2 separate regions of the Homo sapiens genome follow, and region 2 is linked to region 1. A link means that fine-mapping ties the variant in region 1 to the expression of a gene that starts in the linked region. Tissue or cell type: blood mononuclear cells. Region 1 holds a variant in brackets; the other region holds the start of a gene. All regions are shown on one strand. Distances are from middle to middle.

Region 1 (8,320 bases):
TATGAGCATGTCTGTGTGTGTGAGTGTATGAGTGTGTGTTGTGTGTGAGCAAGTCTGTGTGTATGAGTGTGTCTTGTGTGAGTGTGTGTGTGCCTGTGTGTATGAGTGTATGTGTGTGTCTGTGTGTGTGTGCACCTTCTCCCTAGCAAGAGCACCCATAGGTTACATCAGATTCTCAAAGGGATCTGTGTCCTCAAAAGGCTCAGAAGCACTAAGATCCTTTTCAGCTCTGGGGTCTCTGATTCTACATAACAAGAAAGAGAGGAAGAGGAGGTCATCCAACCCATGGGGGAGGGAGTCAGACCAGATCCTAGAACTTCCAAAAGGGTTGCAGGCCCCACAACAGGAATGCAGGGGAGGCTGCAGGACCAGGCCCCAGGAGAACGTCTAACCTCAGTAGTTCTCCGGGCTGAAAGAAGCAGAGCCCAGAAGAGCTGACTGCAGAAACGGAAGAGGCAACAGCAGCCAGGAGTCTCCTCCCCACTGCTCCCGCCCCATCCACAAGCACCCACTTGTCCTGGGATACAGCAGAGAGCAAGGAGGCACGACTGGCACCCGGAGATGCCCGCCAGGCCCCTTGGCACCCAGAAGGCTTGGCTGGAGGACTCAGGAGGGTGCCAAGCCCCAACCTCTTGCTCCTGAGGCTGACATGTGGGACCATAGGAGGGCTCAGGGTGTAGGGCAGTTGTGGGACCTAGAGAGGCCACCTGGGAGGGGCAGGGCCCACAGCTGCAGGCACTGACAACCCAGAGCTGGACTTGGAGGCTTAAGAGCCAAGGCATGCACCCTCTCAAAGCCAAGGGGAGGAGCAGGAGCCAAATGCTGGCCAGGGGAGAAAGAGGAGTGGGCAATGGGGCCTGGGGGACAAGGCAGTCCAGGAGAAGGAGGAGGACAGCCTGCTTGTGGAGGAGGAGGCAGCATGACAGGGGAAGGGGGCGATGTGGCCTGGGTAGGAGAGGGCTGTGCTGAGGGGACAGGAGAATAGCGAGGCTGGGTGTGGACACAGGCAGCAGGAGCTCAGGCTGTGGTCAAAGAGAGATGCTGGGCCTACGGCAGGGCCTGGGGCAGGAATGGGGGGTGTGTCTGCAGCAGGACTGGCAGTGGGTGCGCCCTGGCAGGCAGCCCAGATGTCTGGGTAGCCACTGACTCTTGGCTTTTGAGGGGATCAGCACCCAGGAGATGTTTATCTGCCCCAAGAACGAGGGTATCACCCCTCCTCTAGTGAGGCCCCAGGTGATGGGTGCAGGCTGCTCTTCCCTAAACCCCTGAAGGGGGGAGCCCCGAGCAGCAGCAACCCTCACTGGAGCCAGAGTCAGGGCACAGCAGCTGGGATGGAGCTTGATCCCCACAGACAGAGGAGGGAGGGAGTCACAGGCGAGCTCCAGGCTCTCTCCAGAGGCCGCTTAGAAACCAGCTCATCTGATGCAGACACTCGTCCCCATCCCTCTCCCTGCCACTGTCACACACCGGCACACACACCCTCCCCTCTTTCTCCCCTTGATCATCCACCTCCAGAGCCCCGGCTCCTCCCTCCATCACAGCCCCACTCCCTGTCCCTGTCCCTGCCCACCTTTACCTGGCCCAACAGGCACCTGCCCCATGTCAAAGCTGGCTGTGTGGGAGGTGGGGAGGCAGGGACACAGGGTGAAGAAAGAAGACCCACCAACAGCGAGTCCTGAGGTCACAGGGACCTAGAGAGGAGTTACCCATCCCTGGTGACCCCAAACACCTCCTCCTACTCTCCCAGGAAGAAACCAGCACCACACCTATCCCAGGCCTGATGGTTCCCTGGCAGACTCCTCCAGAGCAGACACCTGCCTCCCAGCTCAGACCTGTCCCCACTGCCAGGTCAGCTCCCCACTTGCTAGTCTCTGAGACTTACCCAGCACAGAGAAGGCAGGGGTGAGAGGCCAGCCTGTCCCCACCATCCTGGGGAAGTCCTTGCTCCAGTGGGGCCCCCACCCTCCTAACTCCAGAGTCCTCCTAAATGAAGGGACACTGCCAGAGCTGCCCCTTGGTCCAGCTCGAGGAAGATTAACTCTTTCCCTACCTTGCCCCAGCACTCCAGGCCTGCCCCTCCTGGGTGACTCCTAAACCAACCTCACCCAACCTATTTGCCCTTCTAGGGGTCAGGTCCTATATCACCCTCCTCCCAAGGGCACAAGAGACCCAGGGGAGCCCTCTACCCAACTGGAGGCCCCTTCACCCGGTCGTGGTCCTTCCTCCCCCTTGGTCCACCTGCCTTGCCGCACTTCCCAAGCAGACTAGCACCGTCCTGGGCTGGCTACTTAACCTGTGTCAGGTGCCCTGGGCTCTGCCAACCGCCAGCTCCCGACTCGGGGCGTCGTCCCTCACCCATTCCCGCAGCCCCTACCTGAAGCGGTAGCTGCCTTCTCTCTGCACAGGCCAAACCCCCGGACTCCCAGCACTCAGCCCGCGCCGAGACCCAGGGACTCCCCGGGGGCTGGGGACCGCAGAGTGGTCCGGGCCGCAGCTCTTCGCAGCACACCAGGCTCACAGTGCAGCCCATCCGGCCTGGCGCCCCGGCGGGCAGGGGCGGAGACGCGGGAGCCCCAGAAGCCGGCCCGCCCCCAGCCCTTGCGACAGCTCAGCCCAGAGCGCCTGCGACATTGGCAGGCGAGCAGCAACGACCCCAGCCTGGCCCCGACAGAGTCCCTGCCTTTATGTCCAGCAGCGACAGGAGCCCCCACTGTGGGGCCTGATAAGGGTCTGCAATACAGGTCCCGAACACAGCCAGTGAGGAAGCCCACCTCAGGGAGGGGAGAAGGGAGGGCGGCAGTGGTGGAGTCCTTGGGACAGGGACTTCAGACAGTCTGACTTGGGGGGCAAGGTGAGAAACACACCAAGAACGTGACAGAGGGACAGGGAGAAGATAAAGGCAGACAATGAGGAAGAGGCAGAGATGAGGGACAGAGATGGGGGAAGCAGCCTCCGCATGGGGGATATAGGTGCAGGACGGAGCCGAGGATAGAAACCCTCGGGCATCCGTTGTGCTGGTTTTTAGATGCGGTTCCTGGGGTTTGTGAAAACAGCCGTCCTCCCAGGCCCCTGCTCCACTTCCCTAATACTAGCCCCTGGAGCAGCCGAGCCTGGAGAAACGAGGACCCGGCATGGAAAGACCCCAGGCTCAAGGAGGCAGAGCACAGCCAGGGTGGGGGACCCCAGCCCACCGGGGAAACCCGCCCGGCCCATTGCTGCGCACAGGATCTCACTGGTGGTCTCACATCCATCCTTTTGGGAATGGGATCAGGCCTGGGGGGTCGGCACTGATGACCAGCACTCAGGGGGACCGCCTCAGCTGACTGAGGTGGAGACAGGAAGGAGGAGCGTGGTGGGGCCCTCGACCTCCCCTCCCCACTCTGGAGCGCTGCCTCACAGCCCAACCAAGCGACACGGAAGAGACAACCACAGGAATAGCAGCTGCGGAGCTCCATGGCCTCCCT[G/C]TGCCCCCTGGTGGCGAGAAGGAAGAAAAGCAAGAGCAGGTGCTGAAAACGAAAAGGAAACTAGCAGCAGTCCCAGCTACCACAATGGATCAGCCCCCATTTGGCCAACAGGTGACTCTACCCCAGGTGGGCCTGAGAGGACCCATCCCCCATCTCACCATTCTGCCCCAGCGCCCTGGATCCTGCCTCTACCACTTCTTCCCTGCGCAGTCACTAGGGACGGACTCTGGCAGCAGAGCCGCGCTGTCGTGCCCCAGCCAGCCAGGCTCTCCTGGGTGAGTAGCAGGGAGACCCCTGGAACTTACGGGGATAGAAGGAGTGTGATGCCAGGAGCCAGGGGAGGAAAATGCCTGGCAGAGACGAGGGAGAGGAGGAGACACATGGAGCCGTTCATGGATTTCACACAGGATCTGGGCTGGAAGGGGCTGCCGAGACCATCAGTCCAATCTTTGGTCTACAGGTGGGGAAACTGAGGCTCAAGGAAGGTGAGTGATTTGCCCGAGATCACACAGTGAGTGTGTAGCCAGGCCAGGATGGAGACCCAGGTCTCTGGGCTCCTGACCCCGTCCTCCCTGAATCCCATGCCCCAGCCACCTCCCTCATTTACCTCCGTTTCCCTCTCCCCTTCCCTCCACTGTGTCCCACTGCTGTACCACTGCCACGCCACCCCAAACTCCAGCAGCCACAGCCCGGGAGGCAGGACACCTGGGTTTTCCGCTCCATGCCTGGTCTTGACTCTAGGATCTCAGAATAAGGCCACCTGCTCTCAGGGCCACAGTGTCCCCGTCTGGGCCCCAGGATCCATTGGGAGGAGAAGAGGATGAGATCCCCCAGGAGAGAGGCAGTATTAAAACCAGGCACCCTGCTCCCCCCACACACGCAGCATCTGCTCAGCTCCAGCCTTGGGGCCGCGCTTTACTTCTGCAACCTCTCCTCAAAGAACACACATTTCCATTCAGCTGGGGCCCAGGAAAAGATGAGTGGGTGTCTCGAGGAGGATGAGTACCCGGGTGAGGCTGGGGGCCCTCCATGGGGAACATGGGGACACTCCCAGCCTAGTGTCCACATGGCATGAACCCTCACGGGGCTGCTCACACCAAGTCAGGGCCCAGAACACAGGCCCTGTGGGCACACACACCTGAGTTCAAATCCTGGGAACCTCTGTGATGCTGGATAAAAGACTTACCCTCTCTGTGCCCCAGGTTCCCCTCTAGCCTCCCAGGGTTATGTGGGGATTGAATGGGACAAAGATATTAAACAATTAGCACAGTGTCGTCGCCCAGGGACTGCTCAATCGGTGGAGGCCACACCATCATCTTCACACCCTGGCCTACAAAATAGAGCTGGGATTTTCCCTTGCTGTGTGGCCAGATATAAGTCTTTCCCTCTCTGGACTTTACACAAAGGAGGCTCTGCATCCTCCTTTGTGTAAGGAGAGAGTTGGGCAGTGAGACTCAGGGTTCTTCCTGGGCTCACAGTCCAAGTCACAAGGAATCACATTATCTAGCATCCTACGACTGGGTTAAATTAAAACAGGGGGTGAGAACGAGTGAGTCTAGAAGTCTAACTCTATAAAAGGGACCACAGTTCCAATTTGAACCAACAGTTGAGTTAAGGATGCTGCTAAAGTCAGCCACTGGGTGGCCTAACGGATCTCTTAGATGACGTAAAACTTTGGGTTTGATGTGACAGAACCAACACTCCCTCAAGTTACCCACAGAAGCTACTGGCTGTGAAATCCTAATTACAGCATAATGCTGCCAAGTGAAAGGGGTAGACATAAGCAAGGAGAAATTAAGAGAGGTAAGAGATTCACCACGATGAGGAGTCTTCTTCAGTGTTTTGGGGAAAGCTGTCCACAGCGTGAAGTCATCAACTTCTCACTCTGGTTTGCAGTTTAAATATCTCTGGTTATGGCATCAGGTATTTTGGTGAAACTCTGTGTGGCACGCACATCAGGCATGAAGGTTTTCCCTTGAAATGTACACTAAGTTGCCCAGCTCCAGCTTATAAGGCTTCAGGAACAGAGCAGTTCTTGTTCTTTGTAATTCCATGGGAGAAAATTGGATTGGAGGAATCTAGAAGGAATCAAGATCCAGTCCAGTCTACAGGTAGATAATAAACTGAGGCTGGGTGCAGTGGCTCAAGCCTGTAATCCCAGCACTTTGGGAGGCTGAGGCGGGCGGATCACTTGAGGTCAGGAGTTCGAGACCAGCCTGACCAACATAGTGAAACCCCATCTCTACTAAAAATACAAAAAATTAGCCGGGCGTGGTGGCAGGCGCCTGTAACCTCAGCTACTTGGGAGGCTGAGGCAGAAGAATCCCTTGAACCCAGGAGGCGGAGGTTGCAGTGAGTGGAGATAGCACCACTGCACTCCAGCCTGGGCAATAGTGCAAAACTCAGTCTCAAAAAAAAAAAAGATAATAAACTGAAAAACAATGAGCAGGGCTACAATCTAATAACAGGCACACTATAATTTTTCTTCCGAAACATAATTTTTCTCTCTACATTCACTCTCATTTCTACCAAAGATAATCAAAGTAAGACTAATTTGTTTGCAAAATAAGTTTAGCCTCATCAAACACAGCCTGACTAATTAAATAAATGCAGCAAACATAGCAATTGACCACAGAGGTTTTCTTTTAAAGCTTGCTTTGTTGGAACTTTTGATAGGAAATCTCAAATTGGATTTTTTAAAACCTCTTGAGGCTAGAAAGCCAAACCAAGGCAGACTTCAGACTTCACCAGCAATACCTATAGATTCCTTCTCTGGACATTTTCAAATATGACATCCCAGTCAATGCCCTAGTAATATACCCAATACTGTCAATATATCCTGTTATAAAGAGAACCGATTCCTATAGAACAGAAGCAAATCACTATATTACCATACCAACAAGAATACTCACAAATAGTTTCTGAATTCTGGAAGGATCCTATGTGGAGAAAAAGTAAGTGTTTCCACTTTTGTTCACAAAAGTACATTTGGCCAAATTTCTGTAATCTATAGATAGTTTAAAAGAAAAAAACAGTTTCCTAAACTATGGCAAACAAAATATTTAAAGAACCAGCAAAGTTTCAAATAAAAATTCATAAAAAACATTATCCTCCTCAGTTCATTTAACCTCATGTAATTACTTTGTTCTTCTTGATCTTGGTTAAGTTTCATGATAGCGTCAGTCTCTTCCTTAGAGTTATGGAAATTCTTACCCAGTCCAATGGTATGATCTTAAAGTTATCAAAAACCTTTCCATGAAAGTTATCAGAGTCCTTTCCATGAATCTCCTTGAACACATAACACCTTAGAATTACAGCTGCTTGAATAAAAAAAAAAGTTTTCAGAAAAACACCAGAAAAAAAAGCAATTATTTGTGGACAATATGTCTTGAAATGGCCATAGTTAAACATCTTATTTGTGTTTATTATGATGATGCAACTAAGAAGGAAATTTGGGCATCAGAGACATAGACAGAGCTGAGTTTGCTTTTGCAAAGTGCTCCATCAGTAAAAATGCACAGTTTTGGGTGATTCATGGTGAATCTGTTTTCATTTTAATCATTACATATTCATTTTAAATTAAATTAACAAAAGTGAATTGATTTAAAGAATATTACACTTCAGCAGACATGGCCAAAATGTGAAAGGTGGTTTAGAGATGATGGAAGTTTGGAAGACCCCAAATTAGATGATCATGTTATCAGTGAAGAGTGCCCTCAGCGGCTAGTAACAAAAATCTGACTCCCAGTGGCTTAAAAACATAGCGGGTGAGGGGTTTTTGGTGGTATTATTTTACACATAACATTTGCTAATGTTGGTTGGGGGCTCAGTAACTTCCAAGGCTGACTACCCTCTTTCCGATTCATTTGCCCTTTTCCTCATGGCCCCATGATGGTTGCTGCAGCTCTAGCAGTCACAAGCAAAAGGAAAGAAAAGGGAGAGAGGGTGCCAAGCAGTGTCTTTCTTTCTCTTTGGTAGGAAAAGCGAGGGCTTTCCCAGAGCTTGCAGCAGTCTTCTCCTTGACCTTCATTAGCAAAAATCATATCCTTGGCCACCACTAGGTGTAAAGAAGTCTGGGAGAGTGGGCAATCGGTTGCATAACTGGTTTAGACCATCCTCATCCAATGGAGGTTCTATCGGTGAGTAAGGAAGGGGCATCACAGCAAGATAAACCAACATCGGTAAAAGCAAACTGAGAGTGGCTACTGTCTCTTTAAACTTCCTGTCACTATTTATACATGAAAAGAGAACCCAGCAGGAGAGTATGATCTACCTTTAAAAATAGGCTTGCCAGTGGCAGAATTGTAGGCATCTGTGGCATGATAAATTTGACATTTGTGGTAGGGCAAGATTTACACTACCATTAGAGGATGGTTGGGAAGGAACAATGGCAGGCAGACCAGGTGGGCTGTGTGTTCGGGCATACCTGTGGTATGAGTGTGTGACCAAAAGCAATAGACAATGAATTGTGGTGGTGACACATGGTCCATGAATCACAGTAGAAATGTCTCCCATTATTTATTTCCACAACCGTTGATTGAGCACTTACTATAGTCCCTGAAAGAGAACACAAAGATGAATGGAAGAGGATTCTTGCTCACAGGCTGGGGGAGGGTGGACTTGTAAACACATCACTGCAGTATAGTAGGGTTCATGTTATAATGGAGAATTGATGAAGGTGCCAGAAGACTCAAGCCAGGGAACAGACATTAGCTGCTGGGGGAAGCTAAGGCAGGTTCCCAGAGAAGCCGTTCTCCATTACTGAGATGGGGGGAGCAGTGACCTTGACCCCAGCTCTTCCATTCATGGACTGCCCCAGCTCTATGGTCTCTCTGCTAACCATCCAGACTCTGGGA
Region 2 (8,000 bases), 33 kb before region 1:
CCTTTCCTCCATGGCCCTGGGCCTTGCTCTGTCGCCTGGGCTGGAGTGCAGTGGTGTAATCATAGCTCGCTATAGCCTTGACCTCCAGGGCTCAAGTGATCCTTCCACCTCAGCCTCCAAGTAGCTGGGACTACCAGCGCATACCACCATGCCCAGATAACTTATTTATTTTTCGTACAGACATGGTCTTACTATGTTGCTCGGGCCAGTCTTGAACTTCTAGGCTCAGGAAATCCTCCCTCCTTGGCCTCCCAAAGTGCTGGGATCACAGGTGTGACCACTGTGCCTGGCCAGATTCATCTTTAGATCTAGTTTAAAATTCACCTCCCGAGGAGTCTTTCCTGACACCTTCTCCCTACAGTCCAGGTTAGGTCCCCCTTACATCCCCCAGAGGTTCCCTCTTGGTAACACCCATCCTGCTTGCAATCATGTGCCAGTATGTGCAAGCAGCTTGAAGAGAGCAGGCCCTCCATAATAATCCGTGAAAAGGATGGAAAGCTGCGTGGGGGGTGTGGTTAGAAAGCCAAATGATGGGATGCTTCTTCCATCACACGACCTCCCCAACACCATGCCCTGACCCTGGGCTGCCCGCCACAGTCCTCTTCGCTGACTTAGGGCTCATGCGTCATTCTCAGGGCTTGATTCCCACGGACCCCACATGTCCTGCCCCAAAGCATTCCCAGAATGGAGAAGCCTGGCAGAGGATGCAGCAGATGGGGTTGGAGTCTTGACTCTGACTTGCTGGGTAGCCTTGAAAATGTGCCATCCTACAAGAAGCACTAACATTTCTTGAGCTCTTACATGTGAGAGACACTTTTCTAAATGTATGTGTGGATTAGCTCATTCAAAACCGAACAACCCTATAGGTAGGTGGGGAAACCAAAGCACAGAGATGTGAAACTACTTGCCTATGGTCACACAGCTGTCAAGTGACAGGCCCGGGATCCAGCCCAGGCATTGCACTCTCGGCCAGCATGCTACACTTCCTTTCAACACTGCAGAATAAAAGGGCAGTGCTCTTCCCAATTTTGTGCCTCACACATTACTTTGCAAAACTTTGCAAAAGGAGAGTCTTATTTCAGACCCTGGTGATTCTCATGCAGCCCAGCCTACCTCCCAAACCCACAGTCAGGAGGCCCTTACAGGTCAACCAAACTAGAGAGAACGAGTTCAGGACCAAAGAGTCAGATTGATGTCTGCATGACCGGAATTGTGCACAAGGAATCCAGAGCTCATGAGGACCCTTCTGTCAAAAATGTGTGCTTAGCACTGGGCAGGACACCAACTCCAGGAAACAAAATACATCATCGTCTGCAGCTGGATGTGGCCTTAGAGAATAGAGCCCACATTTCAGTGAGGTCCAGAAAAGTCGAGTGACCAGCTTGAGACCACTTAGCTGGCTCAGGGCAGAGCCAAAGCTGCACTTGACCCCCAGCCCCTGCCTGGTGGCTCTTTCAGCCTCACCCTGAGCCCCTTCCCAGTTCCTGAGGACCAGTGAGTCCCTCTGGAAGGAAGGGCCTCCACCTCTAACTCCTCCAGCACAACATCAAAAAGCCTCAATTGCTAGGCATGCAATTATTTTCTAAATAAACCGTACTTGAATATGTAATAGCAAATGGGAGCACTTGATGAGAAAATCAAGTTATGCATAATAAATAGCTCTGCTCCTCAGCTAATAAAGTGATTTTTATTCCTAGGACTTGTTAAAACTATGCACTACAGATATATTACTTCTTAGATGACACAATTGCAGCTTTCCCCATACAGGAACATGTGAACCAATAGATGCAAGCACTCACTCTAGGGCACAAGAACTATCTCAGTCACTTCCTGGCCTCAGAGTAGCTGGTCAGAGTCCCTGGGCAGTCAGCCCAGGAGTAGAGCCCAAGGAGTAGAGCCCTGTCCCATGACACCATTCCCAGGGAGATCCTCCCCCAGCATCAGGTCTGGGATACAGAGGATCCCAAGAACCAGGCAGGAGACTGTGGAGTGGGAAAGGGGCCAGCATTTGCTGAGCACCTACTGCATGCCTACATACCTGATCTTTTGATATCTATTGTCTCTTTCCCCACCCTAGCCATACAAGGAGTATATTATTCTCTGCACTTTACAGATCAAGAAATTGAGGCTCATGAAGGGAACTGCTTTACCAAGCCTGCCCATACCAAACGATGGAAATAGGGTTTGAGCCTAGTCCTATCTGGTGCCAGGACTGCTTCCTCTGTCCAGTCCCTACTGCCCCAGTCTCTGGCCCATCCTGGCCATGGGCATCACAGCCAGCCTAGAAAGGATGGGGACTAGGAGAGGAGAGGAAAAGGAGACAGGGGAGGGACACAGGCTTTTCTAGTCTTAAAGACACTCAAGGCCAGGCGCAGTGGCTCACACCTATAATCCCAGCACTTTGGGAGGCTGAGACGGGAGGATCACTTGAGGTCAGGAGTTCGAGGCCAGCCTGGCCAACACGATGAAACCCCATCTCTACTAAAAATATAAAAAATTAGCTGGACATGTTGGCACGCACTTGTAGTCCCAGCTACTCGGGAGGCTGAGGCAGGAGAATTGCTTGGACCCAGGAGGTAGAGGTTATAGTGAGCCAAGATCATGCCATTGCACTCCAGCCTGGGTGACAGAGTGAGACTCCATCTCAATTAAAAAAAAAATGAATAAATAAAAATAAAGACACTCAAGGAAGCAGCACTCACAGCTGCCTTGGTCCCCAGACTCTTCCCCTTACTCTCAGGGAGGGTATAACACCCATAGGGCACTCTACCTGCCAGGCACTGCCCTGGGGAATTGGATACAAAATTTCATCCCTACCTCTCTGTACCCTGTTTCTCTGCAATCCTCATTTCACCAACGGGAAAGCAGAGGCTCACCAGGATGAGGCACTTTTCCCAGTATCAGTCAGCTGAAGGGATCTATAGAGCCCTCTCTCCAGTCACAGCAGCTCGTCACCCCTGGAGGTCTACCTGCCATCCTTCTTGTGTCACCCCTGGACGTCTACCTGCCATCCTTCTTGCTGCAGAGCTCCCTCCTGCCTACCTCTGTCCTCAGCACAGAGACGAACCTGGCCAAGGCTCCCATTTCCCAGATGTCAACACCAGCCCAGTAAACCACAAATGCATCCTGTGTGCAGGCCTCCCCAGTCACTCTCAATCTATTAATCCAATCCATCCCAGCACCCCAGCCCAACATGCCACCCAAACCGCCTCATTCCAGGCCCCCTCCCCCACCCTTTCTTTCTTTGCCCAGAGGACACCTGGCTGCCCGAGTTTGTGTTCCCACAACTGCCCCCAGCATGGGCTTGCCTGGGCCAAGAGGGCCCTCCCGAGGACTGGCCAGAACAAGGAAAGGGACAGGAAAGGCCACATCTGGATCACAGCCCTGAAGCCCCCTCCCCCAAACCAGCCATCACTCTCTCAGAGCCCAACAGTAACCTCAGCCAGGGACGACTTCCTCACCCTCCTGACCCCATGCATGCCTTTGCCTGGCCAAGACAGCCCCACAGGAGCCCCTCTGAGGAAGGGGTCCTCTCCTCCTCTGACCCCCAGCCCTTCTGCAGCAGGCAGCCCTCTCCCATCCCCCTTTACCCAGGAGCCTCAGCCCAGGTCTGGCCTTAAGACTTTTAACCTTCACCACGTGGCCCCCAGGCCTCTCTGCTGGCCCCCCTGGCATCCCCATCCTGAAACCCACCTCCCTGAACCTGGAGCCAAGAGAGAAAGGGGGAAGAGCGGGCCATGGCTCCCTCCTCCAGGATGGAGAGGTCTTGGTAGCAGGGGAGGGCTGTGGAGGAAGGGATGGCAGTGGGTGGAAGCTGAAACTGGGTGTAGAAGGAATAAAAGGGATGGACTCTGAGAATTCTCCCACAGCCCAGCTCTTCCAGACTTAATATTTTGGACTACTATTCTTTGCTCCCCAGCCCCACCACTGCCTCCTCCTCAAGATCTTGGGCTCAGCAACTGAGGGGGGGCGGTGAAGAATTTTCACCCCATTGTAGGATGCAAGTCGGGAGGAAAGGCTCTAAAGAGAAGCAAACTTCTCTGTGGCCTCCTTCCACTTACAGCTCTGGGACTCCATTGGGGGGTGGGGGGGTGGGGCAGGGGATGTACTGACCCGGGACCCTGGGCCTGGGCCCTGTTGGTGGGGAAAGTCTTCCGGCTGAGGGTTGCTCAAGTCAGTCTGTCCTTCTGTAGGTCAGAGACAGAAAGGCCCCTCCTTCAAGACTGACACCCCCCGACCCCGGGCTCTCAGCAAAAGGATAAGGTGGCAGGGGCCGGTGGGGGGCGGGGGGTTTGAGGAAGAGTAACGTCGCAGCTAAAGCAGCCAGACCTACCCAGAGCATGCAGGACAGACAGATCCACGTCATCTTTGCTGGGTCCCGTCACTGAGGCACGCCCAGGGCCTGTGAAGAGCCCCTGAAGCTAGAGTCCCCGCGGCGCTGGCAGAAGGGCTCTCTGAGTCCGCGGCTGCTCCGGCTCCGCCAGCATCTGCTGGGCCTCTCGCCCTGCTGCCTCCAGCTCACCCTCCCTCCTCCTCCTCCTCCCCCCACTCCACCCCTCGTCCCAGCCTCCTCTCTCCTCCCTCCTCCCAGGCTCCACCGGTGGCCTTGAGGGTCAGGAACCCTGCTTTGCAGGGGGTGTAAAGGGGACAGGGAAAAGGGAAAGCTACCAGAGGCAGGGCCCCCCCAGGCCGTGCCCCCCACCCCCGGACACACAACCCCTGTGTGCCACCAAGGCTCCTCAGTCTTCTGATCTGGTGCTGGTAGGCCTGGAGTCCTCCCTCCTCACTGCAGACCCCCGCCCCTGGCAAACCAGCCTGGGGGCCTTCACTCCTGGAACCCTCCAGACCACTGATGGATGAACAGACAGCCCCAGGCCCACACAATCAGCACACTCAGGGTGCCTTGGCCCCTCCCCTTCTCTGAGTACCCGTGCCTGCCTTCCTGGCCTCCTCGGAACACACATGCATTTGCACACACAGACTGGGACAGACTCTGGTGCCCACGCGCCAAGCTCAGAGCCCAGGACAGGCCTTAACACAGAAGAAATAGGGCCCGAGACTGGGGAAGAATGGCCCTGCCCCCAGGCTGTGGGTTTCATTCCAATTTTTTTCCTATTTCTTTTTTTTTCCCCCTTCTTTCTTTCTTTCCTGCAAACATCTGTCCCAGCCTTTCCTGCCCTTCTGAAAGGGAGCCCCGCTCCAGGCTCCCGCGAGAGTGTGTTTTTCTTGACTGTACCCGGGGCCAACATTTGGTTTGCATTTCCCCACTTCCTCCCCCTCCTCCCCTCTCCCCCTCCCTGGGCCCAGTTCTCCCCTCCCACCATTCCACAGGCCTATTTCTTCCCCTCAGTGTCCCCTGCCCACCAGCCCTCCCCTCCCCTCGCCCCCACCTCTGCCCAGGGACAATTGTTGGGGGTCTAGAGGGTGGAAAGGAGGCTGGGTCAAAACCCAAAAGTATTCCCACGGAGCACTAAGGGGGAATCCAGCAAAGTCTGCCCCAGGCCTTCATTGTCTGGAACCACCACGTTCCCCTCCAAAAAAAACCCTTCCTCTTTGAGCTCTGGCCTTGGCTGGACCAACTGAGGGTGGGTGGGGGCCAGTGAATCACCCGCTCTGTTCTTTGGAGCTGTCCAGGAGAAGGAGGGAGGGCTCAGCCCCACACCCTCCTGTGGACACACACACACACAAGGACACAGTCCAACTCACGTCAACACATAAGAGCCCTCCCAGAGTAGGCACTTGGAGACCTCGTTCCTAGACTGAGTCACTTAGCAAGAAAAGTTCTCTTGCCTGGCCTCCTATGCACACTGTGCTATACATGCCCTGGGGCCACATGCACGAAGGGTTACAGATCCCCTGCCTCCCCCCCCCACTCACCCAAGGCCATGCCATGCCGCTGTCTGTCAGCACCACATACCGTGCAACTACCAGCCTCCTCTTTCACAGGGATCTGCCCAGCCACTTGTGCCAACTCCCAGCCCAGGGACCACCCAAGACATCTACCTGGGAAACCCCAGAATGAAGGGGAAACACTGACTCTTCATCTGAAAAAAAGACTGCAGTATTCAGATACACAGGTTGTCCACAGCACAAGGGACTAACCATCTATTGTTTGGTGGTTCTGAGAAGTCAGGGGAGGACACTGAAGTGAAGTGTCAATTTCCAGCCCTTCCTAAAGCAGGTACCTGAGTGAAGAGTCTTTGTTCCGGTAGAGGAGTCAGGGTCCTCTCTCCATACTTCTCCAAGTCCTCCAGAGCTCTGGGGCTGGGAAAGATCCTGCCTCTAGTGTCCTTCCCTGCCAGGATCACAATGTCCCTCTGGACCCCCTACTCTAAGCCTCCTGGGGCTTCACTGACATTTTAGCCAACGCTGAAATGAACCAGTGTTCCACATGCAGTTGGCCCTGCAGTCACAGCTGGGGATGTCCATAGACAGAAACCTCTGCAAACCCTCCCGTCTCCCCTGGCTGGAGCACCAGGCAAGCAAAGGGGAGTGGTCTTCAGGAGGCCTCTCTGAGAGCCCCTGAGCCCCTCCTCAGCCACTATCACCAGCTCTGCCAGGCTGCCCTTGTCCCCTGACAAGTTCAAGCCTTCAGCCAGCTAAGCCCTGACATCCCAGTGCCCACTCACACCAAGCTCCCCGCTGCCTGCTCCCACAGCCCTTCACTGCTGGCGTCACTGAAGACGCCTCCAGGCAGCTTTCTCTGGAGTTCTGAGAAGTCACCTTGGGGCTTCCCAGAAATGCTGGAAAATCAAACCAAAAACCAAGTCACAGTGACACCAACTTGTCTGGCCTCCTACACAGCCCGAGGAGGCCCTGCTGCTTCCCCAGACTCCTCAGCTAGGACTGTGAATGGAAGTAGGGGACCCTAGTGCTGGGGGTTCCCTTGGAGAAACCCTCCCTCCAGAATACCCCCATCCCTCTTCTCCAAGCCTATGGGGTCTCTCCTGTATATTAATCGCTTATCATCAAGATGTCCTTCCTGCTAATTAACCACCATTTTCCCTGTTGAATGTTAAACTCTGCCGACTGAGGTGTCTCTAACTGTGTGTAATGACCCTGTTCCAGGCTTGTCAGCCTTTATTCCTCCTTCACAGCCTGGTGTCTCCACCCCAACCCACACACGGGCAAGGACGTGTCCTGTGTTTTGTATCCCCAGAGCCTGGCATACAGCAGGCACCAGACATGGTTGAAGAATGACTCAATCACTCAATCAATTAGTCAATGGATCCTAACATATTTTCCTACTGTAAGCATTCACTGCCTCCTTCCCAAACCTTCCTTCTTTTCCCTTCAAAAGGGCCTCAGGCAGCCCTGCCTGTACACTTTTGCCCACAATTTCAGTGCCACCCTATCTGCAGCCACCTCTGCCTGCTGCCAATGCCCCATTCCCAAGCTCTAGCCAGCTGCAGACTCTCCGCAGGCCTGGATGGTTTCATTCATCTTGGGATCCCCACCCTGTGCCCAGACCCCTGTCTCACACACAGCAGACATGGAGTACACACTGGAGGACTGGCTGGGGCTCTACACTGGCATCCCAGAAGCCTCAGAACCCAGCCCCAACCCTGTGCCATCCCCATTTCTGCCTTCCCGCTGCATGCGGAGACCTCCCTCCGCTCATCCCTCCAGCCCCCTGCTCAGCAGCCAGCTGAAGAAACAGAGTCAGGTCTGTGGGCTGTGGTGCTGGCCCTGGGGCTGGAGGAGGGTGGAGCCAAGGCAGAAGGAAGGGTGAGTGTGGTCAGGAATGAGCTAATGGCCTTAGAGCCTGAGCCTGGCAGGCCCCTCCCTGGGCCTCAGTTTCCTTTACCTGTAGAATAACAGGACTGATGGCCTCCAAGGTCCCTTCCAGCTCCACCTTCTGCGATGACACGAGTTTCCCAGGCCAAGGCCCCAGCCCCATCCAATTCACTCTTCCTTTCCTTTGACTCTTGTCCACCAAAATATTCTTACTGATGTCCACCCCTCTCCTACCAGGGCGTTAAGCCTTTCCTTTGTCACCA

What was found. PIP is the estimated chance that this variant, and not a neighbour inherited with it, causes the effect.
Region 2: TNS1 starts here. The variant in region 1 is fine-mapped to the expression of TNS1 in blood mononuclear cells (TOPMed, PIP 0.97).

Annotation. Positions count from the first base shown.
Region 1 is chr2:218,031,446-218,039,765 of GRCh38, forward strand. It overlaps a transcript of TNS1 not described here and a transcript of RUFY4 not described here. Among named protein-coding and RNA genes, the nearest start is that of TNS1, 33 kb to the left of the region's middle. RefSeq lists enhancers at 204-760, 2,879-3,412, 3,413-3,945, 4,801-4,890 and a silencer at 3,739-3,788. The variant G/C (reference allele first, on the strand shown) is at 3,465.
Region 2 is chr2:217,998,507-218,006,506 of GRCh38, forward strand. TNS1 (tensin 1) reads right to left here and starts at 4,489. Exons shown (of 33, transcript NM_001387777.1): 1 at 4,334-4,489. The coding sequence starts at 4,366. RefSeq lists enhancers at 2,933-3,433, 3,434-3,934, 5,675-5,774.